2 separate regions of the Homo sapiens genome follow, and region 1 is linked to region 2. The links come from fine-mapping of genetic effects on gene expression. A gene starts in region 2. The other region holds a variant in brackets. All regions are shown on one strand. Distances are from middle to middle.

Region 1 (16,112 bases), 33 kb after region 2:
TAAATAATTAACACTTATTTGGTATGTTATAGGTATTATAAATTGTATTCTTCCAATAAAGTAAGCTAGAGAAAATAAACTATTATTAAGAAAATCATAAAGAGGGGAAAATACATTTACAGTACTGTACTGTATTTATCAATATCATTAAGTTTTCTGTCATCTGTTTACAAGATGAATTGTCTCTCTGAAATGGCACAACCGCACCTGCAGACCTCAGTACGTATCCAACAATTCAACTTTTTTCTTGTAATGTCATGACTTTTCTCTGCTTCTTGGGCACTTCCAGCATCACTAGTGGCACTTCATATGGGTCCACTGTGAGTTATTGTTTCTGTAAAAGCTGAAATGAAAGCAAGAGAGAGGTTCTGAGCCTGAGCCAATGGGTAGTGAGGCCGAGGTGGTTGCCTTGGGGCCATGACCGATGGGAAGGTTAGAGGGAAAGGTAAGGAAGATGTTGGGCTGAATCCTGACATTGCACCAATCCTGGGTTCTGGGAGGTCCAAGCTATAGTCGCTGGCCTCAGGGCCAAAGGAAAAAGTTGTGTGGAAACAACAGATTGTGGGGAAATTCAGACTGCTTTGCAAAAGAATGAGGAAAGTCAGGTGGGAGAGTGAAGGAGCCCATCCCAGCAGGTGAACATCCTTCAACAGTTATTAAGAAATGGAAAGAACATGGCCGGGCTCAGTGGCTCATGCCTGTAATCCCAGCACTTTGGGAGGCTGAGGTGGGAGGACCGCTTGAGGCCAGGAGTTTGAGACCAGCCTGGTTACATAGCAAGACCTCATCTCTAATTAAAATAATAATAATAAGCCTGGGCGCGGAGGCTCACGCCTCTAATCCCAGATCAGGAGTTCGTGACCCGCCCGACCAACATGGTGAAACTCCGTCTCTACTAAAAATACAAAAATTATCCAGGTGTGGCGGTGGGAGCCTGTAATCCCAGCTACTCGGGAGGCTGAGGCACAAGTATCACTTGAATCCAGGAGGCGGAGGTTGCAGTGAGCTGAGATCACGCCATTGCACACCAGCCTGGGTGACAAGAGCAAAACTCCATCAAAAAAAAAAAAGAAAGAAAGAAAGAAAGAAAGAAAGACAGACAGACATGGGCAGAGCAAAGCAGACATTAATGGGGTTAAAACAACACTCTTACGGCAGCACTCTCAGAAACTGGAACTGCTGGGAGCTCCTGTGTGCCCCAAACTAAAGGGCCTAAACCTATGTTCATCCAGTTTGGAGAAATAGAAAACATTAGAAGGCAAAGGTGACCATGAGCAAGTTGGCCTCCAGTCACCTAGAGTGATGCTCCTGCAATCCAATCAAGATAAGGGCTTGATTGATGAGAGGGTCAGGCATCCTTTGGCCTGACCCCTGGCTGGGGACCCAATGCTATACACCCATGAGTGGGTAAAATGCTCAGGGGATGGAGAAGAAATGTTTCTGGGACTCCTCAACACGAGAGCCCCATGCACTGAGATTGCTCCATGGTGAGCAGGTCAGTGCAAACCTACCCGCAAAGGCCCCAGGAGCTGAGAGGCCGAAGAAAGAAGCTGACAAATACAGCTTCTCAGAAAGAAATATAGAATAGGGACTTATGTGGCTCACGCCTGTAATCCCAGCACTTCGGGAGGCCGAGGCAGGTGGATCACCAGGTCAGGAGATCGAGACCATCCTGGCTAACACGTGAAACCCTGTCTCTACTAAAAGTACAAAAAATTAACCAGGTGTGGTGGCAGGCACCTGTAGTCCTGGCTGCTCGGGAGGCTGAGGCAGGAGAATGGCGTGAACCCAGGAGGTGGAGCTTGCAGTGAGCCGAGGTTGCGCCACTGCACTCCAGCCCGGGCGACAGAGCGAGACTCCATCTTAAAAAAAAAAAAATAGGGACTTATGAACAGAAGCCACGTCTCAAGGGGCTGTGAGCCACTTGCCCTCCAGAAAGCATCTTTTTTTTTTTTTTTGAGATGGAATCTCCCTCTGTCACCCAGGCTGGAGTGCAGTGGTGCAATCTCAGCTCACTGCAACCTCTGCCTTCTGGGTTCAAGTGATTCTTTTGCCTCAGCCTCCCAAGTAGCTAGGATTACAGGCATGTGCCACCACACCTGGCTAATTTTTGTATTTTTAGTAGACATGGGGTTTCACCATGTTGGCCGGGCTGGTCTCAAACTCCTGACCTCAAGTGATCCGCCTGCCTCAGCCTCTGAAAGTGCTGGGATTACAGGTGTGAGTCACTCACATCAGGCCAGAAAGTATCCTTTATCTAGCAAGCTTGTGTGATAGAACGTGTGCAGCTGGTCATATCTTCGGACATTCTTGCCAAGACGTGTGTCCACTGAGCAGGTTAGATAGACGTCTTTTTGAAGGGTTCTCTCTGCTGCAGGCAATGTCTACAGACCCTACTGCAGAACACCTTGGTATGTGGGGATCAAACACTGGTCATCATGGTGTTTTTGCTTCGAGATAAATACACAGCAACAGGCTGTTCTCCTACTGTGATTCCAAACCTGTTGGTGAAGTCTCTGTAGAAGCTACAGCTGGGGTGGGAGGGTGCAGGAAGCAAAGGTTGATGGGATGAAGGTGAAAGTTCCGATGAATATCGGAATGTTTGAGCAGATTTTATGTGATGTGGTTGCACCTGCTGCACCTGAATGTGTCATGGGGGTAGATACTGCATCTGGCTGGCAGATGCTTCCCTTAGGTCACATGTAAAACAGAAGACAGGTGTATTAGTCCATTCTTACACTGCTGATGAAGACCTACCTGAGACTGGGCAATTTACAAAAGAAAGAGAGGTTTAATGGACTTACAGTTCCACATGGCTGGGGAAGCCTCACAATCCTGGCAGAAGGCAAGGAGGAGCAAGTCATGTTTTACGTGGTTGGCAGCAGGCAAAGACAGAGCTTGTGCAGGGAAACTCCCATTTTTAAAACCATCAGATCTCGTGAGACTCATTCACTATCATAGAAAGACCTGCTGTCATCATTCAATCACCTCCCACCAGGTTCCTCCCATGTCATGTGGGAATTGTGGGAGTTACAATTCAAGATGAGATTTGGGTGGGGACACAGTCAAACCATATCAACCATATCAACAGGTAAATCTACCTTTCAGCCAATATTGGCTGGGCATGCTAAATGGAGCCAATAACGTTGTCTAAGCCCACAGAGGTCATTAATTTGAAACAGTATTAAACAGCTGGTGGACAAAAAGGGCTTACCACTTGAATGAATGCCCTGTTAGAAGCAGGAGTGCAGGCACACATTCTCTGTATGGTCCAGCCCTGTGTGAGGCAGACCAGGACTCACAGTCAAGCCTGTGAGCACCATCCAGCAGTGAGAAGTGCGATTTTGGACTGGAAATTTCTGTTTGAGAGACAATTTGCGGGTTACTGAGCTTTGATTAAGACTGTTCCTATGACTGAAGGACATAAAATAACCCCAGAACCTGAAATACCCAGAATGTCTTAAGCATTGCCAGAGAAACACTCCCATGGAGAGGTCAGTGCCCAAAAGAATTCCGGAATAAAATGGAAATTTTATTTAATTTATGTATTCGGGTACAGGTACATGCTCCTGGGGGAAGGTAGGAGGAGCTCATCACCCCATGAGCAGAGCCTCTTTTCCCCGAGGACGGACGTTGGAATCCTCTGAGGAGCTGCCAGATGCTGTCACCATGAAAACAGTGCCCAACGGATCAGCAGGAAGCTGCTTGGTTTATGGACAGCAGGTTCAGGCAGAATGGGGAGCATCCTGTTTGGAAGGCTGTCCCTCTGTTTTGTTTTGTTTTTTTTGTTTGTGTTTTGAGACAGGGTCTTGCTCTGTCACCCATGCTGGAGTGCAGTGGTGTGATCACTGCTCATTGCAGCCTCAGACTCCCAGGCTTGAGTGATCCTCCTGCCTCAGCCTCCCTAGTAGCTGGGACTACAGGCACCCGCCACCACACCTGGCTAAGTTTTAAAATTTTTTTTTAGAGATGGGGTCTGGCTATGTTGCCCAGGTTGGTCTCAAACTCCTGAGCTCAAGTGATTCTTCCTCCTCTGCCTCCCAAAGTGCTGAGATTACAGGCATGATTCTCTGATTGAAGAAGGAAAAGTCAAACTAGCTCAGTGGGCTGACTTGCATGTGGTTTTCCTGTTTGGGTTTTTACTGACTCATAAGGGGTGGCCGGTGACATGGCCATGTGATTGCAGATAGCCAGTGGAAAACTAGTCTATTAAAGAAAGGGCCCCTTGAAAATCACCGTGGGAGTTTCAGGGGTGCATTAAAGTAGAACATGACAATATCCATCAGAAGAACCCCTTCCAGGATCAGAAGGTGATCGGAACTGGCAAATGGGAGTCCTGGTGCATTCACTTGGGATGGCCACAAGGGCCCATGGAAGCCGTGGATGTGGAGGCTGCAGCGGCGCAGGGAAGGGCTGCGCCTAAACATGTCCTCCCCCTCAACACACCCTCGGAGCCATGAGATGCAACTATCTGCTGATACAGAGACAGAGACTGCAGATGGCTGCAGGGCAGATTTACCTGGAAGCAGAGGGGGGTAAGGGGGAGGCCCTGCACATAGCTGGCAAGTAGAATTGATTCTGTAGCCCCAGAAGCCTACAAATAGGTCCTGAAAGGAACAGACACTGACTCTGGGCTGGGCTTTGCTTGCCCAGTGGTACATGCAAATACACAGAGTGCTGTAAAAGAGCTGGAACAGAAGCTTTCATGCCAGTGTGCACTGCTGAGTTACATTTCTTCACATCAAGAAACACACTCATCTTCAGAGCAATGGCTTGAGAAAGAATTGAAACAGGCAATTGAAACACTGGTTTTCCAAAAAGAAAGAAGCTATAGGCACCAAGGGCTGGTGTGTGCTCACACTGAACATGAGGGGCCAAGGGAGGGTCCCTGCTGGGGAGATTCCTCTGCTTTTCTGGGGAGCTGGGGAGGAGGGGGTCGGGGAGAACTCATATAATTATACAAGTCTTTCCGTGAGGGAAGGATAATGGTACAGTTCTTCTGTTTGCTGCATGCACATGAGTAATTGTCCCTGGTAATTTCTTTGCTCTGAAGGTTCTATCTGTATTAATAGAGCCATGATTACTTGATTTTGTTCATGTTCTCATGGTCTACCTTTCTCCATCCTTTTATCTTCAGCCTAATCATATAATAATTACAGTTGAAATGAGTTTCTGAAACACAGCGTGTATCGGGATCATGTTTTTGTATCCATTCTGCCAATATCTTTAAATTGGTATATTTGTCCATTTACATTTTATGTAAGTACTGATATAACAGGGCTTAATCCTGCCATTTTATTTTCTGTTTACTGTTTTTTCCCTCTGATTTTTAAAATAAACTTCATTTTTAATAGATTTTATTGTTTAGAGCCATTTTAGGTTCACAGAAAAATTGAGCAGAAGATACAGAGATTTCCCATATACTCCCTCCCCCCAACACATGCCTAGCCTCTCCATTGCCCACATCTATCACCAATGTGACATGTTTGTTACAATTAATGAACCTACATTGATATATCATTATCACCCAAAGCCCATGTCTTACATTAAGGGTCATTCTATGTTGTACATTCTATGGGTTTTGACAAATCTACAATGACATGTATTTACTATGACAGTATCATATACAGCATCCTACCTCATGTATTTACTATGACAGTATCATATAGAGCATCCTACCTAAAACTCCTCTGTGCTCCACCTGTTCATCCATCTTCCGCCTTCCCCATCCCTTGGCAACCACTGATCTCTTTACTGTCTCCATAGCTTTGCCTTTTCCAGAATGTCATATATTTGAATCACATAATATATGATTGATTGGCTTCTTTCACTTAGTAATATGCATTTAAGGTTTATCCATGTCTTTTCATGCCTTCATAGCTCATTTCTTTTTAATGCCAATAGTATTTTTTAAAAATTTTTTATTTCCACAGGTTACTGGGGAACAGGTGGTGTTTGGTCACATGAGTAAGTTCTTTAGTGCTGATTTGTGAGATTATGGTGCACCCATCACCCGAGCAGTATACATTGAACCCAATTTGTAGCCTTTTATCCCTCACCCCCTTCCTACCCTTTCCCTCTGAGTCCCCAAAGTCCTTTGAGTCATTCTTATGCCTTTGCATCGTCATAGCTTAGCTCCAACTTTTGAGTGAGAACACAGAATGTCTGGTTTTCCATTCCTGAGTTACTTCACTTAGAATAATAGTCTCCAATCTCATCCAGGCCACTGCGAATGCCATTAATTCATCCCTTTTTATGGCTGAGTAGTATTCCATCCATATATATATATATATTTCACAGTTTCTTTAACCACTCAATTGATGGGCATTTGGGTTGGTTCCACGTTTTTGCAATTGCGAATTGTGCTGCTATAAACATGCGTGTGCAAATATCTTTTTCGTATAATGACTTCATTTCTTCAATGTGATACCATCTTACTCCTGCAAGAATGGCCATAATAAAAAATCCAAAAATAATAGATGCTGGTGTGGATGTGGTGAAGAGGGAACACTTCTACACCGCTGGTGGGAATGTAAACTAGGTCAACCATTATGGAAAACAGTGTGGAGATTCTTTAAAGAACTAAAAGTAGAACCACCATTTGATCCAGCAATCCCACTACTGGATATCTACCCAGGTTTGTTCTTTTTGCTTAATCTTGCTTAAGGTCAATCTTATTTTCATTGTCTGAATTTATGCATTCACTTACTGAAGGACATCTTGATTGCTTCCAAGTTTTGGCATTTATGAATAAAGCTGTTATAAACGTCTGTTTGCAGGTTTTTGTGTGGACATGAGATTTCAAGTCCTTTGGATAAATACCAAGGTACATGATTGCTGCATCATATGGTAAGAGTATATTTAGTTTCGTAAGAAAGTGCCAAGCTGTCTTCCAAAGTGGCTGTGTCATTGTGTATTCCTACCAGCAGTGAATGAGCCTTCTTGTCGCTCTGCATCCTCACCAGCGTTTGGTGTTGTCAGTGTTCTGGATTTTGACCATTCTAATAAGTGTGTAGTGGCATGTTGTTGTTTTAAGTTTCATTTCCCTGATGACATGTGATGTGGAGCATCTTTTCGTATGCTTATTTACTGTCTGCTTATCTTCTTTGCTGAGGTATCTGTTAAGGTCTTTGACCCATCTTTTAATTGGGTCGTTTGTTTTCTTATTTTCGAGTTTTAGGAGTTCTTTGTATATTTTGGATGAGAGTCCTTTATCAGATACATCATTTGCAAAGACATGTCATTCCTTGTCTGTGGCTTGCATTTCCATTCTCTTGACAATGTCTCTTATAGAGCAGAAATATTTAATTTCAGCAAAGTCTAACTTACCTTTTCTTTCTTTCATGGCTATTGTCTTTGGTGTTGTGTCTAAAAAGTCATCACCAAACCCAAGATCCTCTAGAATTTCTCCTATGTTAGTTTCTAAGGGTCTACAGTTTTGTGTTTTACATTTAAGGATGTTATCCATTTTCAGTTTATTTTTGTGAAAAGTGTAAAGTCTGTCTAGATTCTTTTTTTTTTACACATGGATGTCCAGTTGTTCCGGTATCATTTGTTGAAGGGATTATCTTTTTGTTACTGTATTTCCTTTGCTCCTTTGTCAAAGATCCATTGACTATATTTATGTGCTTCTATTACGGGCCTCTATTCTGTTCCATTCATCTTTTGTCTATTTGTTCACCAGTACCACGCTGCCTTGATTACTGTAGCTTCATAGTGAGTCTTGAAGTCAAGTAAGTTCTCCGGCTTTGTTCTTCTCCTTCAGTATTGTATTAATACTCTGAGTCCTTTGCCTCTCCACATAAACTTTATTTATTTATTTATTTATTTATTTATTTATTTATTTTTGAGACGGAGTCTCACTCTGTCGTCCAGGCTGGAGTGCACTGGTGCAATCTCAGCTCACTGCTACTTCCGCCTCCCGGGTTCAAGCAATTCTCCTGTCTTAGCCTCCTCAGCACCACCACACCTGGCTAATTTTTTTGTATTTTAGTAGAGATGCAGTTTCACCATGTTGGCCAGGCTGGTCTCGAATTCCTAACCTCAAGCGATCTGCCCGCCTTGGCCTCCCAATTGCTGGGATTACAGGCGTGAGCCACCGTGCCTGGCCTCCACAGAAACTTTAGAATTTATTTGTTGATATCCACAAAATTACTTGCTGGGATTTTGATTGGGGTTGTACTGAATCTATACATCAAGTTGAGAAGAAGTGACATCTTAATAATATTGAGGCTTCCTGTCCATGAGCGTGAAGTATCTCTCCATTTCTTTAGTTTTTAAAAAATTATTTCATGAGAGTTTTGTAGTTTTCATCATATAGGTCATATACATATTTTGTTAGCTTTATAACTAAGTATTTAATTTTTGAGGGATGCTGAAGTAAATGGTAATATGTCTTTAATTTCACATTCCACTTGTCCATTGCTGGTATATAGAAGAGCAATTGACTTTTGTATTTTTTTTTTTTTTTTGAGATGGAGTCTTGCTCTGTCACCCAGGCTGGAGTGCAGCGGCACAATCTCAGCTCACTGCAAGCTCCACCTCCTGGGTTCACACCATTCTTCTGCCTCAGCCTCCTGAGTAGCTGGGACTACTACCACACTCGACTAATTTTTTTTTACTTTTAGTAGAGATGGGGTTTCACCGTGTTAGCCAGGATGGTCTTGATCTCCTGACCTCATGATCTGCCCGCCTCGGCCTCCCAAAGTGCTGGGATTACAGGCATGAGCCACCGCGCCC[G/A]GCCAACTTTTGTATGTTAATGTTGTATCCTGCAACCTTGCTGTAATCACCTGTATTAGTCAGTTCTTGCACGGCTATAAAGAAATACCTGAGACTGGGTAATTTATAAAGAAGAGGTTTAATTAGCTCATAGTTCTGCAGGCTGTATAGAAAGTATGGTGGCATCTGCTTCTGGGGAGGCCTCAGAGAGCTTTAACTCATGGCAGAAGGCAAAGCGGGAGCAGGCATCTCACATGGCGGGAGCAGGCATCTCACATGGCGGGAGCAGGCATCTCACGTGGCAGGAGCAGGACCGAGAGGGGAGTGTGCCACGCACTTTTAAACAACCAAATCTTGTGAGAACTCACTCACTATACAGAACCAAGGCAGGGGGACGGTGCTAAACCATTCATGAAGAATCTACCCCATGATCCAATCACCTCCCATCAGGCCCCACTGTTGTAATTCCCAACACTGAGAATTACAATTCAACAAGAGGTTTGCTGGGGACACTACATCACCTGTTAGTTCTAGGAGGGTTTTTTTTTGTCCTTTTTTTTTTTTTTTTTTTACATAAATGATCATGTCATCTGCAAATAAAGAATTTTATTTATTCCTTCCCAATCTATATACTTTTTATTTCTTTTTCTTGTGATATCACATTAGCTAAGACTTCCAGTACAATGTAGAAAAGCAGTGCTGACAGGGGACATCCTTGCTCCTGATCTTAGCAGGAAATCTAGTTTCTCACCATTATGTACAATATTAGTTGTAGGTTGTTTTTTGGTTTTTTTTGTAGATATTCTTTATCAAGTTGAGGAAGTTTCTCCTCTATTCTTAGATTACTCAGGATTTTAAATTATGAATGGGTTTTGGATTTTGTCAAATGCTTTTTCTGCACCTATTGTTGTGACATAATTTTTCTTCTTTAGCCTGTTGATGTGATGGATTATATTAATTGACTTTCTAATTTTAAACCAGTATTGCATACTTGGAATAAATTCCACTTTGTCATGGTGTATTTCCTTCTGTTTTGTTTGTTTTATATAGAAATTATTTTAAAAAATAGTTTTAGATTTATGGAAAAGTTGAGAAGATAGTACAAATAGTTCCCAGAGTGATGATCAGGGAGACATAAACTGGACGTGGGTTGAACAAGAGCCACAAATCTGCCAACATAAATTGTTTGTTTATATCTTCTGCACCCAGTTTTCCCTATCATTAACATTTTATGTCGATATGGTACATTTATTACAATTGATGTACAAATATTGATCATTATCTAACGTGGTAGTTTATTCTGATAGTTTAGTTTTTATCTATTTTTTTGTTTATATTTATGTCTCATTTAACACACTTTTTCGGTTCCAGCAGGTCATCCAGGCTATCACATTACATTTAGCTGTCATGACTCCTTAAGCTTTTCTTGGCTGTGACAGGTTCTCAGGCTTTCCTTGTTTTTGATGGCCTTGACAGTTTTGAGGAGTGCTGATGTAATGAGAATGCCACAGCAATGTTTGCTCCCTAGGCATTAGAAGTAGAACATCCAAATGGTTGAAGCCAGTGGCTAGAGAGAAGAACTTAGAAGTCTGGTATGCAACAAGATCTTCAAAACCAAAACCAAACAAACAAAAATGAACTTAGAGGCATCTTCCACACCCAGCAGACTGGGCTCCCTGCTTTCCTGTGGCTTCTTTCAAATGAACCTTTCAGACATTTCCCCATGAACTTCAAGTGGCTGGAGGATGAAGGACTTCCCTCCTAACTGTGCTCTTACTGTCCAAGATCTATTTGTAATAAATCTTTGAACATATTTCATATTGTGGTGGTGTACTGAATTTGCACCTTCCACCAGAAGAACACAAGGTCAGGCTCCCAGCATCAGAGTGATGGTCAGGCAGACACAGAATGAAGATCAGGCAGACATAAGCTAGACATGAGTCAGACAAGGGCCACTAAGCTATCTGCCAGTATAAACAAGTTTCCAGTGCAAGGAACCTCCCTGGTCACGGGTCAGACACTAGGTATTAGGTTGTCTTCCAGGTGATAGAAGTAGCCCATGAAAGGATACCGTAGGCCAGGCACGGTGGCTCACACCTGCAATCCCAACAGTTTGGGAGGCCGAGGTGAGCAGATCACCTGAGGTCGGGAGTTCAAGACCAGCCTGGCCAACATGGAGAAACCCTGTCTCTACTAAAAATACAAAATTAGCCAGATGTGGTGGTGCATGCCTGTAATTCCAGCTACTCAGGAGACTGAGGCAGGAGAATTGCTTTAACCTGGGAGGCAGAGGTTGCACTGAGCCAAGATCACACCACTGCACTCCAGTCTGGGCAACAAGAGCAAAACTCCATCTCAAAAAAAAAAAAAAAAAGGATACCGTAAACACCCATGTCCAGACCCTCTTCATTTTCTGTTAGGGCAGGGTTGCTAGCTGCTGTGGTACTGGAACCCCAGTTTAGCTGGGGGCTCTCAGAGCAACTGCTCAGGTATGTTGTAAAATGTAATTTTATTAGAATTTATCTGACTTTTTTCATTATGAGACTGAAATGATGGGTTTTGGGGAGAAGACTACAGAAGTAAAGTACCATTTTTGTCACATTATATCAAGGGTACATACTATTGACATCGTATCAACATCATTTATCCCTGTTGATGTTGACCTTGAGGTAGTGTGGTGAGTTTTCTCCACTGTAAAGTGACTATTTCCCCTCCCTCCTTTCCATACTGTATTCTTTAGAAGGAAGTCTTCATGTGCAACCCACAGTTTAGGAGTGGGAAGTTATGCTTCCTCTCCTTGAGGGAAGAGTAGCATCATAAAATATTTAGAATTTTTCCACACATGACTTTTGTTTCTTCTACCCCATTAACTTATTTATTCTACAATTAATTTATATCAGCATGGATTCATGGATTTTTTTTTATACTTTGGGCTATGATTAAATATTATTTTATTTGTTTTGTTAACTCTATTCCAATCTTGGCCACCGGGGAGCTCTTTCGGTTGGCTCCTGTGTCTCTCTGACGTGCTGCCACCAGTGTGGGTTTTTGTGTCCAGCACTTCCTAACTTTCTGGCACTACAAGATGCTTTAGGCTCATCTTTTATATTTCTAGCCCCGGTCCTAGAGTCATCCATTTCTCCAAGAAATCTTGGCTCCTTTTATTGGAGAGTGGTCTTAGAAATCAGGATCTGGGCCGGGCATGGTGGCTCACACCTGTAATTCCAACACTTTGGGAGGTCCATGTGGATGGGTCACTTGAGGTTGGCAGTTCAAGACCAGCTTGGCCAACATGGTGAAACCCTGTCTTTACTAAAAACACAAAAATTAGCCAGGTGTAGTGGCCCACATCTGTAATCCCAGCTACTTAGGAGGCTGAGGCACAAGAATCACTTGATCCTGGGAGGTGGAGGTTGTGGTGAGCCGAGATCACGCCACTGCACTCCAGCCTGGGCAACAGAGCAAGACTCCATCTAAAAAAAAAAAAAAGAAATCAAGATCTGGAAGCCGGGTATGCTTGTTGCTATTGAGGTGCTGATTTGTTTAGGCTCTCTCTGCTGACACAATGAGGAAATATATGTGTGTATTCTATCCCATGTATATACATATATTTATAAATATTTCTCTAAGTAATCATGACTTCATTTGATGTTTCCAAATCTATTACCATGTAGATTATTCTAGTTTCCTTCCCTTACTTATCCCACCCAGTAAGAAACCTGGCACCCACCATCTGCCATCCATTAGCCTAACTGTCCAACCTTAGCATACACATATAGTGGCATAAGAATTGTTCACCCTCACGCCTGTGGGAAATGACATTATCAGGTAGAGTACAGTGCTTATGTGCAGTGTCCTTTGCCTTCAGTCTTGCAGCAACACTCATTTCCAAGGTTACTTAGGTGAGCACCTTTTCTTTCCACTCCCTTCAGTGAGGTTGTTTTATACACTTGTAATACAGTTAGATGTTTTTGTCATAGTCTGCATTCTTTCCTGAGAGCCTCCAACCTCCTAAATGACTTTTTAAAATTTTGCATATGTTAACATTTATCTTTTATTCTGTAAAGTAGTATGGATTTTGAGAATTGCATAATGTCAAGTATCCACCATTATAGCATTATACAGAATATAGTACTTAAAGAATAGATTTATTGTCCTAAAAATTCCTTTGCTTCACCTTTTTAACTTTCTTCTTTCCCCTCAAATCCCTGACAACCACTGACATTTTCCATGTTATATCATAATTATTGATATATGCTATATAACCACTGTATAGTATATCACCTTTCAGACTAGCTTCTTTCATTTATCAATATGCATTTAAGGTGTCTCCATGTCTTTCTGTGGCTTGACAGCTAATTTATTTTTATTACTGAATAATATTCCATTGTATGGATGTACCAAAGTTTGCTTATTCATTCACCTGTTGAAGGATATCTTTGTTGCTTCTAATTTTTGGTGATTATGAATGAAGCTGCTATGAAAATTCACATGCAGGTTTTTGTGTGGACATAAAGTTTTCAAATCAGTTGGGAAAATCATTAGGAGTGTGATAGCCTGATCATATGATAAGACTATGTTTAGCTTTGTAAGAAACTGCCAAACTATCTTCCAAAGTGGTGGTACTATGTTGCATTCCCACCATCAATGGGTGAGAGTTCCTATTGCTCTGCATGCTCATCAACATTTGGTATTATCAGGTTGTTGGATTTTAGCCATTCGAATAGGTGTGTTATTATTTTAATTTTTAATTCTCTAATGATGAATTATGCAATTATATATATCAAATATGCATATGGAAATGTACATTTGACAAATATGCACTTCCATATGCATATTTGGTATCTCTGTATCTTTTCTGATTAGTTGTCTGTTCTGGTCTTTTGTTCATTTTTAATTTGGGTTGTTTTCTTACTAAATTTTAATAATTCTTTGTATAGTTTGAATATAAGTCCTTTATCAGATATGTATTTTGCGAAGATTTTTCTCCCATTCCATGAACTGTCTTTATATTTTGTTAACAATGTCTTTTGCTGGCAGAAAATTTTATCTAATATCCAAAGTTAATTTTTCTTTCATGAATTATGCTTTTGGAGTAGTATCCAAAAACATCATCAATCACAGGGTCACACAGAATTCCTCCTTTGTTTTCTTCTAGACATTTTATAGTTTTGCATTTTACACTGACGTCTATGATCCATTTTGGGTTAATTTGGGGAGAAAGTGTTAGGCTCATGTCTAGGTTTACTTTCACATAGACTTCTGTTTGTTTCAGCATTGTTAGTAAAAAATAACTACTCTCCTTTATTTCTTCATTTTTATTTCTTTCTTTCCAATATATATACCTTTCATTTCTTCTTCTTGTATTGTTTCATATGCTAGGAATTCCAGTGCAATGTTGGGTGGATGTGGTGAACAGGGACATCCTTGCCTTGTTTGTGATCTTAGTGGGAAAGTGACCAGCTTCTCACCATTAAGTGTGATGTTTCCTTGTAGCTGTAAGTTTGCTTGTAGATGAGCTTTATCAAGTTGAGAAACAGCATCTCTATTCCTAATTTGCTGAGAATTTTTCGTGAATGGATGTAGGATTCGGTAAATGCTTTTTCTAAATCATTTGATATAATCATATAATTTTTCTTCTTTAGCCTGTTGCTATGGTTATTAGAATAATTTTCAAGTATTGAAACAACCTTGGATATCTGGGTAGCAGTATATAATTTATTTTTTTATATGGTTGGATCTGACTTGATATTTTGTTGAGGAGTTTTGTGTGTATGTTCATAAGAGATACGGGTTTGTAGTTTTCTTTGTCTCCTTTGGTGTTAGAGTAATGCTAGCAGCGTAGAATGAGTAAAAAGTGTTTTCTCTACTTCTCTTTATTGGAAGAGATTATGGAGAATTAATATTAATTTTACCTTCCTTAAAGGTTTAGTAGAACTCACCAGTGAAACTGTCTGAAAGTACTGTGGTTTTTTGGTTGTTGTTGAAATCATTAATTATTCATTCAACTTCTTTATTATATACATGTAGACATGGCAATTCAGATAATCTTTTTCTTTTTTTGTGATTTTTGATTTTTGATATTTCAAGGAATTGGTTCATTTTGTTTAGTTATGAAATTTGCAGACATAGAGTGGTCATGGTATTCCCTTATTATTCTTTTAATGTCCAAAGAATCAGTAGTGATGATTCCTTCTTCATTTCTGATATTAGTAATTTGTGTCTTCTCTTTTTTTCTGGTGCAGTCTGGCTTGAAGTTTGTGCCAATTTTATTGATCTCCTTTAAAAAGCTTTTGGTTTCAGTGATTTTCTCTACTTTTTTCCATTGTATGTTTCATTGATTTCCGATCTAGTTTTTATTATTTTTGTTATTCTGCTTGTTTTAGCCTTAAATTGTTCTCTTTTTGGTTTCCTGAGATGGAATCTTAGGTTGTTGAATTTAGATACTTCTTTCTTTATAATATGTGCATTTTAATGCTATATATTCCTCTAAGCTTTGCATTTCCTGCATCTCACAAATTTTGATAAGTGGTATTTTCATTTAGTTCAAAATATTAATTATCATTTATCTTGATAATAATTCTTTGATCCATGTGCTATTTAAAACTATGCTGTTTAATTTTCAGATATTTGGGGAAAGCTATTTTACTGTTGTTGACTTCTAATTTTATTCCACTGTGGTCTGAAAGATCCTTTGTGTTTTTATTTTTTATGTTTGTTTATGTGTGTTTTATGGCCTAGAATGTGGTCTACTTTGATGAGTGTTCCATGAGAGTTTGAGAATAATGCATATCCTACACATTAGATGGGTTATTCCAGAAATGTCAGTAAGATCAAGGTGATTGTTAGTGCTATTCAGGCCATCTGTGTCTTGACTCATACAGATTGGGAACACTTACATAGAAATGAATTGAAAACGCTCTGCTTAAGGTACATATGCTTCACATGAAGCAATAGAGTGCTATTCAAAGTTCAACTTACATTAGTTAAAATTGTATATTGGGAGCTCTAGGACAACCACTAAAATTTTTAAAAATATAAACATATTGTTTTGATACCCTAGTGATGGCCTAATAGAGGAGCTAAATTGGAATTGTATAAAATGCTTCATTAAAACCAGAGTAGACGGTAAAAAGAGGTGTCTGTGGTGAAAAGAAGAAACAAAAAAAAAAGTGAAATTAATGAATGGAAACAGATACAAATGTGATACATATTAATCCAACTATATGAATGATCATGTTGAACGTGAATGGTCTAAATATACCAATTAGAAGACAGATTGTCAGTGAGGATAAAAAAACAAGATCCAATTATATGTTATCTATAAGTAACTCATTTAAAAAACAAAGATTTAGATAGGTTGAAAGTCAAGTAAGAGAATGATATACTATGCC
Region 2 (9,472 bases):
CTTTTCTCTGGCTCTCCCAGGCTCCTGCTTCCCTGACATCGCCTCACAGACTTCCCTTCAAAGCAGGGCTGTCCAATCTTTTGGCTTCCCCGGGCCGCATTGGAATAAGAAGAATTGCCTTGGGCCAAACATGAAATACACTAACACTCACGATAGCTGATGAGCAAAAAAAGGTCTCTGCGTAAATCTCATAATGTTTTAAGAAAGTTTACAAATTTGTGTTGGGCCACATTCAAAGCCCGCAGCCCGAGTGTTGGACAAGCTTGCTGCAGAGGCTCCCCTAGATAGGGCTGCAGGGGTGGCGTCCGGCAGCTCTAGCTGGAGAAGCAGGAGGAGGGGCAGGAAGGAATCCTGTTCGGAGCTCCTCGCGTCACACATACAGCCCAGCGGGGTGAAGTGGGAGGGGCTGGCGCTGCTGCAGGGGGCTAACCTTGGGGGTGAGGGGGCAGCCTCGGAGAGGAAGCTGCCCAGGAGCAGAGGCTGGGGGCGGAGGGCCCCGGGCAGTGCCCCCGTGCCCACAGCAGGACCCTGGCTGCCAGTTCTCCGCAGAGGGCCAGGTGGTCTGAAGCTGCCCAGCAGGGAGAGAACAGGCCTGGCCTGGACTGGAAACCTGCCATCTGGCCTCTCGAACCTGGGGACTCCGGGTGTCCTCGAAGAAGGGCCTGAGCAGCAGCAGAGGACCCCAGGCGACCGTGCCTGAGCCGGGCGCCGACGACGACTGAGCACCTGATATGTCCCCGGCACTCGCAGCCCCGCGGCCGGAGTCGCTGTGGGTGAGCGGTCGTCGAGCTTCACAGAGGCCGGGCTCTGTGCCAGGGCCCCGACAGGGCAGGAAGCAGATAGAGTCCCACAAGCACAAGCCCAGTGCGCAGAAAGGGTTACTTAAAAAATAAGTTCTGTGATAAAATCAAACAGGGTGAAGGGCTGGAAACAGGTCATGAGGGCGCAAACAGGTCGTGAGGGCGCAAACAGGTCGTGAGGGCGCAAACAGGTCGTGAGGGCGCAAACAGGTCGTGAGGGCGCAAACAGGTCGTGAGGGCGCAAACAGATCGTGAGGGCGCAAACAGGTCGTGAGGGCGCAAACAGGTCGTGAGGGTGCAAACAGGTCGTGAGGGCGCAAACAGGTCGTGAGGGTGCAAACAGGTCGTGAGGGTGCAGCTTTGGGGAGAGAGGGGCCCTGGGGGTGAGCGGGGAGCTAGGAGAGAAACAGCGCTCTGGAGGGGCCCGGGCAAGGCCTGCCTGAGTGGGAGGGGGCAGAGCACGAGGGCCCAGGCTCCAGGCTGGGTGGGACTGCCCTGAAGTGCCTGCGGAGACAGCCAAGGGGCAGATGGAGAGAGGTAGGGGGTGGGCTGGGGACAGCGTTTCCTGTACACAGGTGGAACCTGGTGGCAAGGGGCCCTTCCCAGAGACAGTCAGAGTCTCTAAATGTCCAGTTTCTTCCCCAAGTCCACACAGCCCAGAAGAATCCGCTGGGACCATGTGGCCCTGCCCAGTGGGGCTTCCCTTCCAGTGTGTGAGGAGCACAGGTGCCAGGCCACGTCAGGGAGGCCAGGCCTGGTGGGGACGGGGTGCCCCAGGCCACTGCTGGGGAGGAGTGATGCCCAGCAGAGGGGGCACGGTGGAGTTCATGGCTGGCCTGGTGGTGGGGGGGGTGGGGGAGCTCTGCAGGGCCCTGGCTCTGGTGGGCTGGGTAGGCCTGCTTGGGGCACCATCTGATCTGCCAGAGGTGGAAGGAGCACTCCTGGGAGATGCCGTGCCCTGCACCTCCAGTCCCTGCTTGACGGCGGCCGGGCTTGGACTGATCAGGTGCCGTGCCTTCTGCTGACCCCAGAGGCCAGACCCTGTGGCCAGAGTGAGGGATGGATGAAATCCCAAATCTGAGCCTCCTGCCCGAGGATGAGGCCCCTCTCCAATGAACATCATGGCCCATGGAGACTGGGCAGGGAACCCAAGGGCGCACACTGGGGACTGGGCCTGGAGGGACAGCCGGGGAAGCAGGAGGAAGGGCAGGAAGGACAGCAGGAGGAAGCAGGAAGAAAGGGACAGGAACCAGGCCCGGGATGACAGCAGAGAAGGACCAATGCCCAGCCAGGGCTTCCTCACGTGCCTCTGGGTAGAGAGCCCTGGTCTGGCTCAGGAGGCCCAGGCACTGGTCTCAGACCTGCCACCACCTGTGTGACGCTGGGCCAAGCGCTTCCCTTCCCTGGGCGTCCGTTTCCACCGCTGTAAAGTGGGGAGGGGTGAAACTGAAGCTCTCCCCAGCCTATCCCAGCCGTTGAGGAGGGAGAGGCTGTGGTCAGGGGCTGTGGGGCCCACGTTGAGGAGACGAGGCTCCTGCCCTCAGGGTGGACAGGGCCCAGGAAGGGGGTGCTCTGCACCATGGGGGCGCAGCCTGGGCCTACGGGCTCCCCCACCATGAGCTCAGAAGGAAGATGTCCGCTGAGGAGTTGGGGGCCAGGGAGAATATTCTAGACCAGATAGGGGTGGTCTGGGTAGGCTTCTGAGGGGGTGGGCTTGGAGGAGGGGCCGGTGGCCAAGTCGGGGGGAAGCAGGGGAGGAGCCAGCCTGCCTGCGTGTGCCTCTCACCTGTGTGCATTGGCGTGTGCATGTGTGTGTGCATGTGTGCCAGCGTGTGTGTGTGTATTGGAAGGCGCCCACGGAGCGTGTCTGCATGAACCAGGATGAGTGTGCGTGCTGCACCCTGTCTTGGGGCTGGGCATGAGGCGCTGGGGAGGGCGAGCTGACCGCAGACCCTGGGAGGGCTGGGCCCTGGGAAGGTTTCCGAGATGACAGGGCAGAAGTGGGCTGGGGAGGAGGAAGGCTCCGTGGGCGGGGCTGGAGCGTCTCTGGTTTTGCTGTCTGTCTCTCACGCTGTTTCCAGAACAAATGTGTGCCCTCAGCAAGGATGCTGGCTCTTCAGAGGTGTCAGCACAGGCAGCCGGCACCCCACTTCCCTCCCAGAAATCCCCCACGCCCTCTAGCTGGGGCTGGTGCAGGAGCAGTGGGGAACTCCTGTTACCCCTGACCTGCTGCCGTCAGTCAGCCGCCCGCCCCCCCACCTTAAGGAGGGGCAGAGTCAGGGACCAGCCCTGAGGGGTGGCTCACCCCAGCTTCACTTCCCCCAGCCCTTCTCAGACAGCCACTGTGCAGGCTTTGGCAGCGGGGGTCACACACTCCACCCGGGAGGCCAAAGCTGCCTGCAGGTCAGTGCCGCCCACTGCCCTAGGGGCCTCCCAGCGGGGCAGGGGCATGGTGGGGGTCTCAGAGTGGGGTGAGGCTGTGATGGGGTCTCAGAGCAGGGTGAGGCTATGATGGGGTCTCAGAGTGGGGTGAGGCTGTGACGGGGGTTCTCAGAGCGAGGTGAGGCTGTGACAGGGTCTCAGAGCGGGGTGAGGCTGTGATGGGGGTCTCAGAGCAGGGTGAGGCTGTGATGGGGTCTCAGAGTGGGGTGAGGCTGTGATGGGTGTCTCAGAGTGGGGTGAGGCTGTGATGGGTGTCTCAGAGTGGGGTGAGGCTGTGATGGGGGTCTCAGAGTGGGGTGAGGCTCTGATGGGGTCTCAGAGTGGGGTGAGGCTGTGATGGGTTCTCAGAGCAGGGTGAGGCTGTGATGGGTTCTCAGAGCAGGGTGAGGCTGTGATGGGGTCTCAGAGTGGGGTGAGGCTGTGATGGGGTCTCAGAGTGGGGTGAGGCTGTGATGGGGGTCTCAGAGTGGGGTGAGGCTGTGACGGGGTCTCAGAGCGGGGTGAGGCTGTGATGGGGGTCTCAGAGCGGGGTGAGGCTGTGATGGGGGTCTCAGAGCGGGGTGAGGCTGTGATGGGGTCTCAGAGCGGGGTGAGGCTGTGACGGGGTCTCAGAGTGGGGTGAGGCTGTGATGGGGGTCTCAGAGTGGGGTGAGGCTGTGATGGGGGTCTCAGAGCGGGGTGAGGCTGTGATGGGGTCTCAGAGCGGGGTGAGGCTGTGACGGGGTCTCAGAGTGGGGTGAGGCTGTGACGGGGTCTCAGAGTGGGGTGAGGCTCTGATGGGGTCTCAGAGTGGGGTGAGGCTGTGATGGGGTCTCAGAGTGGGGTGAGGCTGTGATGGGGAGTCTCAGTGAGGTGAGGCTGTGTTGGGGTCTCAGGTGGGCTGAGGCTGTTGGGGTCTCAGGGGTGGCTGAGGCTGATGAAGACTTGGAGCCTGTGTCTGGGTAGCAGCTTGTTGGAGTGTGGGATGTGACATTTAAAAACAAGAATGAAGAATACCCCGTGCTGTGGCCCCGAGGTGAGCAGCTACTTTGGTGAACTCGTGTCACTCACAGCCCCATCCTGGGTCCTGGGGTGTGGTGTGCTGTGTGGGGCCCAGGCCCAGTGGGGTCACAGGTACGGGGGACTCTGGTGCCTGGGCCACAGGGATCTGCACCTCACTGCGTGCCCCCACGTCTTCAGCAGTGGTTGGGGCCTGTGGTCTCAATCCCAGGCCAGCCAGGCACTCTGGGGTCTGGGCGGGTCCCGGGTCCAGACAGGGGGAAGGGCTGGGGAGGGGCTCTGGTGTGGCTGGATCGCCCGTCTATGGCCAGGTTTCTCTCCTGGATCACTCAGTGCAGAATCAAAGGGCACTTTTCTGCTTTTGTGTGCAGAAGCCGAGGGTGACCTTGTCATCAGAAGGGGAAGCGGGGCCTCAGAGGCGTGCTGCTGGCTCCAATCCCCAAAGCCTCCTGGGCAGGAAGTGGAAGGGCCCCATCCCCACGGTCCCCGGCAGCGGGAGCTCCCTGAGGCTGATGGTGCTGGTGTCTGTCGAGGAAGACAGGCCTGAGGAGCTGAGGCGGGAGGCCAGCTACGGTCCACGGCCTGGACACAGATTCCTGTGCGGGACTGGGGCAGTAGGTGGGCATCTGTGCTGGCCATGTTAGCTCCCAGGGGCCCCATGCCATCTGGGCTAAAGCCTGGGCCTTGATTTCCTGAACTTTTCTGGGAGGCACTCCACGGGCGAGACAAGGACCCATGAACAGGGCACTTCTTCGAAGCCTACGTGCACCTCGAAACTCTTGCAACATTTGCATTTTTCTCCCTAATAGTTCAGTGTTTGTTTTATTATAAACAGGAAAATTTAAATGTTGTAGTTAGAGTTTTTTTCTTCTTCTTAGAGATGGGGTTTCACTCTGTCTCCTAAGGCTGGAGTGCAGTGGTGGGATCATAGCTCACTTCAGCCTCAACCTCCTGGGCTCAAGCCGTCTTCCTGCCTCAGCCTCCCGAGTAGCACGCATCACCAGCCCAGCTAATTTTCTGTCTTTTTTTTTTTTTTTTTTTTTTTTTTTGTAGAGACGGGGTCTCCCTGTGATGCCCAGGTTGTTCTTAAACTTCTGGCCTCAAGTCATCCTCCTGTCTCAGCCTCCCAAAGTGTTGGGATTACAGGCATGAGCCACCGTGCCTGCCTGCAGTTAAACATTCCCCCACAAAATACTGGGCCACACCGAGGCTAGTATGAAAGTTGCAGCCCTGGGTATGTGTGACCTGAGAGCCCCTTGGCAGCCATGGGGAGCGATGGGGGAAGCTGGGGCAATGGGAAGGGGTCTAGGCACACGAGCCCTCGGGTCCTCACCTCCCACGAGGCAGGGTCCCAGGCTGCCTCTACTCAAGGTGGGGCAGCAAAAGAATCGCCCTCTAGCTGTGCAGACCCCCTCCCCCTCCAGGTCTGCACACCGCCCAAGGCTGGCCCTGGACTTCTGGTGGATTCAAGTACTCAGGTGGGGAGAGTAGGAGGCCAGTCGCACGGAGCCCTCCCCAACGCACAGTGCCTGCCCAGCTCAGGTGCCTCTGAGGTGTAGATTCTGAGCAGGTTCTGGGATCTCCTGGCCCCCAGCGGGGGCTGCCACAGGAGTATAGGCCCAACAGGAAGGGAAGATCCCAGCGATTGGTTCCAGTGGGTTCTGGGGATGTCCTCGGAGCCTGGCCTGGCTCAGGGTCCCTCCAAAAGTCCCTGGAACGAGGGTGAAGTGTTGCTCATGAATCAGAGAGAAAGCAAGCAGGACCCTCAAGAAGGGAGGAGAGAGACCACTGGGCGTGCAGCACTTTGCACTCGGGGGAAGGGCTCCTGAAACTTGGAAGTCAGCAAATATCTGCTGTACTTCACCAGAGGTGGGATCTAAGGAGACAGAATGAAGCCAGGGGGCAGAATGTTTCGTTTCTGTCTGAAACCTGTGCCCTCCATCCCTCATGGACTGGGGACCTGGAGTTCCCGGGGACCACCGTGGGGAAATGCGTCCCAGCACTAATGGTCCCCAGCAGCTGCAGTCACGGGGTTTGGGCGCTCTCCCCTCCTGATTTGGGGGACCTTTTGTGCTCCTCTGGGCAGAGGGAGGAGGCAGAGGGAGGAGGAAGGCCCTTCGCTGTGGGCTGAGTCCTTCCCACCTTCCATACCAGCCCAGCAGGAAGCCACTGCAGGATGCCCCAGAGGACAGCCTGATGGTTGGGGGAGAGGCTTCTCCCGCCCTCACCCCTCCGGGTTCTTCCTGGACCCACTGAGTAACCCAGGTGGTGGGACGTGTGGCTGTGAGTCCTGGACTCTGGGCGCTCACCAGCAGCTCCGTCTCACACCTGCCTGCGTGTGACACCAGCACCCCTTATGATGAGGAAACAAGTTTGCCCAGCTGCAGGGGTGGCCGAGTCAGGATGACTCTAGCCCGTGTCCTGGACACCAGACCCTGCCCAGGTCCAGCCGGGGCTGGTCTCAGCCTTCCTGGGCTATGTCGCGGAGGGTGTTGGGGACAGCGAGAGGCTGGCGTGGACAGTGGAGGGGTGACTTTGTGGGTGGTCCTGATAGTGACGGAGAGGAGGATACTCAGCTCCACCCCTGGGCGGCCCCTGAGCAGCACGACTGGGCCTGAAGGGGCAGGGCTGCCGTCACAGGCTCTGGCCCCTGGGAGCTCAAGGGGTGAATCCCTGATCCCAGGTGTGGGACTGGGATGGGGCCTCAGGCTGATGCAGGCAGGACCTCCAGAGCTCAGGACTGGGTGGGTGGGCTCACAGGGAGGTAGGGGCAGGCCAGAGTCCCAGCTGTCCTGGACTCTGCTGTGGGGAAGGGCTGATGCAGGTGTGGAGTCAAATGTGGGTGCCTCCTGCAGCCGGGTGCCAGGAGGGGTGGAGGGGCCACCCTGGGCTTTGTCCGGGAGCCTGGTCTTCCCGTCCTTGGGCTGACAGGTGCTGCTGCCTCTGAGCCCTCCCTGCTAAGAGCTGTGTGCTGGGTAAGGCTGGTGGCCCTTTGGGCTCCCTGTCCAGGATTTGCGCTCTGGAGGGTAGGGCTTGCTGGGCTGGGGACTGGAGGGGAACGTGGAGCTCCTTCTGCCTCCTTTCCTGCCCCATGACAGCAGGCAGATCCCAGGAGAGAAGAGCTCAGGAGATGGGAAGAGGATCTGTCCAGGGGTTAGACCTCAAGGGTGACTTGGAGTTCTTTACGGCACCCATGCTTTCTTTGAGGAGTTTTGTGTTTGTGGGTGTGGGGTCGGGGCTCACCTCCTCCCACATCCCTGCCCAGAGGTGGGCAGAGTGGGGGCAGTGCCTTGCTCCCCCTGCTCACTCTCTGCTGACCTCCGGCTCCCTGTGCTGCCCCAGGACCATGAATGGCACCTACAACACCTGTGGCTCCAGCGACCTCACCTGGCCCCCAGCGATCAAGCTGGGCTTCTACGCCTACTTGGGCGTCCTGCTGGTGCTAGGCCTGCTGCTCAACAGCCTGGCGCTCTGGGTGTTCTGCTGCCGCATGCAGCAGTGGACGGAGACCCGCATCTACATGACCAACCTGGCGGTGGCCGACCTCTGCCTGCTGTGCACCTTGCCCTTCGTGCTGCACTCCCTGCGAGACACCTCAGACACGCCGCTGTGCCAGCTCTCCCAGGGCATCTACCTGACCAACAGGTACATGAGCATCAGCCTGGTCACGGCCATCGCCGTGGACCGCTATGTGGCCGTGCGGCACCCGCTGCGTGCCCGCGGGCTGCGGTCCCCCAGGCAGGCTGCGGCCGTGTGCGCGGTCCTCTGGGTGCTGGTCATCGGCTCCCTGGTGGCTCGCTGGCTCCTGGGGATTCAGGAGGGCGGCTTCTGCTTCAGGAGCACCCGGCACAATTTCAACTCCATGGCGTTCCCGCTGCTGGGATTCTACCTGCCCCTGGCCGTGGTGGTCTTCTGCTCCCTGAAGGTGGTGACTGCCCTGGCCCAGAGGCCACCCACCGACGTGGGGCAGGCAGAGGCCACCCGCAAGGCTGCCCGCATGGTCTGGGCCAACCTCCTGGTGTTCGTGGTCTGCTTCCTGCCCCTGCACGTGGGGCTGACAGTGCGCCTCGCAGTGGGCTGGAACGCCTGTGCCCTCCTGGAGACGATCCGTCGCGCCCTGTACATAACCAGCAAGCTCTCAGATGCCAACTGCTGCCTGGACGCCATCTGCTACTACTACATGGCCAAGGAGTTCCAGGAGGCGTCTGCACTGGCCGTGGCTCCCAGTGCTAAGGCCCACAAAAGCCAGGACTCTCTGTGCGTGACCCTCGCCTAAGAGGCGTGCTGTGGGCGCTGTGGGCCAGGTCTCGGGGGCTCCGGGAGGTGCTGCCTGCCAGGGGAAGCTGGAACCAGTAGCAAGGAGCCCGAGATCAGCCCTGAACTCACTGTGTATTCTCTTGGAGCCTTGGGTGGGCAGGGACGGCCCAGGTACCTGCTCTCTTGGGAAGAGAGAGGGACAGGGACAAGGGCAAGAGGACTGAGGCCAGAGCAAGGCCAATGTCAGAGACCCCCGGGATGGGGCCTCACACTTGCCACCCCCAGAACCAGCTCACCTGGCCAGAGTGGGTTCCTGCTGGCCAGGGTGCAGCCTTGATGACACCTGCCGCTGCCCCTCGGGGCTGGAATAAAACTCCCCACCCAGAGTCAGTCCTAGTGGGGCCCTCTGTGTTTCGCACTCGTGTGGTGGGAGGCAGGGAGGGAGCGCGTGGCTCAGAGGGCTGGCGGACATCTTCCAGGGACCCTTCGGGGCTCTTCACTTTGAGGTCCCCCTTGGACCCTTTCACCCCTTCCCACCCCCACCCACCTGGAGCGTGAGCAGGGGCTGTTGGAAGCTCCTGGCAGGACCACAGTAGAGGCCCCCAGCCCAGGTTTCCTTGCTCAAGACAGGGCTGGGAGCAGCTGATCTCCATGTAGGGGCTGCACAGCGGTGCAAGGGGGGGTGACCAAGGTCAAGCAGGTGAGGGTGGGTTGGGGTGGGTGGCAGTGAAGGGGGTGGCCAGGGTCTGTCAAGGAACCCAGCCCTCTTCTCCTTCCTTCAGGGAAAGGCTGGAAACCATGTCTGGCAGGGGCAGGGGTTGGGTGCCCACTCAGGTAAAGGCACGATGTCCTGCTGGTTTCTGCCTCTCCTGTACTCCTGCATGGAGGGCATCTCGAAACCCAAGCTGGAAGGACAGGGCACTCCAGAGACCTCCTGTGAGTGTGGGCCAGCACGGCCTGGGCTCAAACCCCAT

What was found. PIP is the estimated chance that this variant, and not a neighbour inherited with it, causes the effect.
Region 1: its variant is the best candidate, but not a certain one, in a credible set for the expression of GPR35 in tibial nerve (GTEx, PIP 0.67).

What each region holds. Positions count from the first base shown.
Region 1 is chr2:240,652,256-240,668,367 of GRCh38, forward strand. No RefSeq gene overlaps it. Among named protein-coding and RNA genes, the nearest start is that of AQP12B, 23 kb to the right of the region's middle. RefSeq lists a silencer at 4,076-4,125. The variant G/A (reference allele first, on the strand shown) is at 8,740.
Region 2 is chr2:240,622,366-240,631,837 of GRCh38, forward strand. GPR35 (G protein-coupled receptor 35) reads left to right here and starts at 3,115. Exons shown (of 2, transcript NM_005301.5): 1 at 3,115-3,203; 2 at 7,584-9,472. The coding sequence starts at 7,588. The coding sequence ends at 8,517. RefSeq lists enhancers at 2,312-2,461, 3,069-3,575 and a silencer at 7,747-8,041.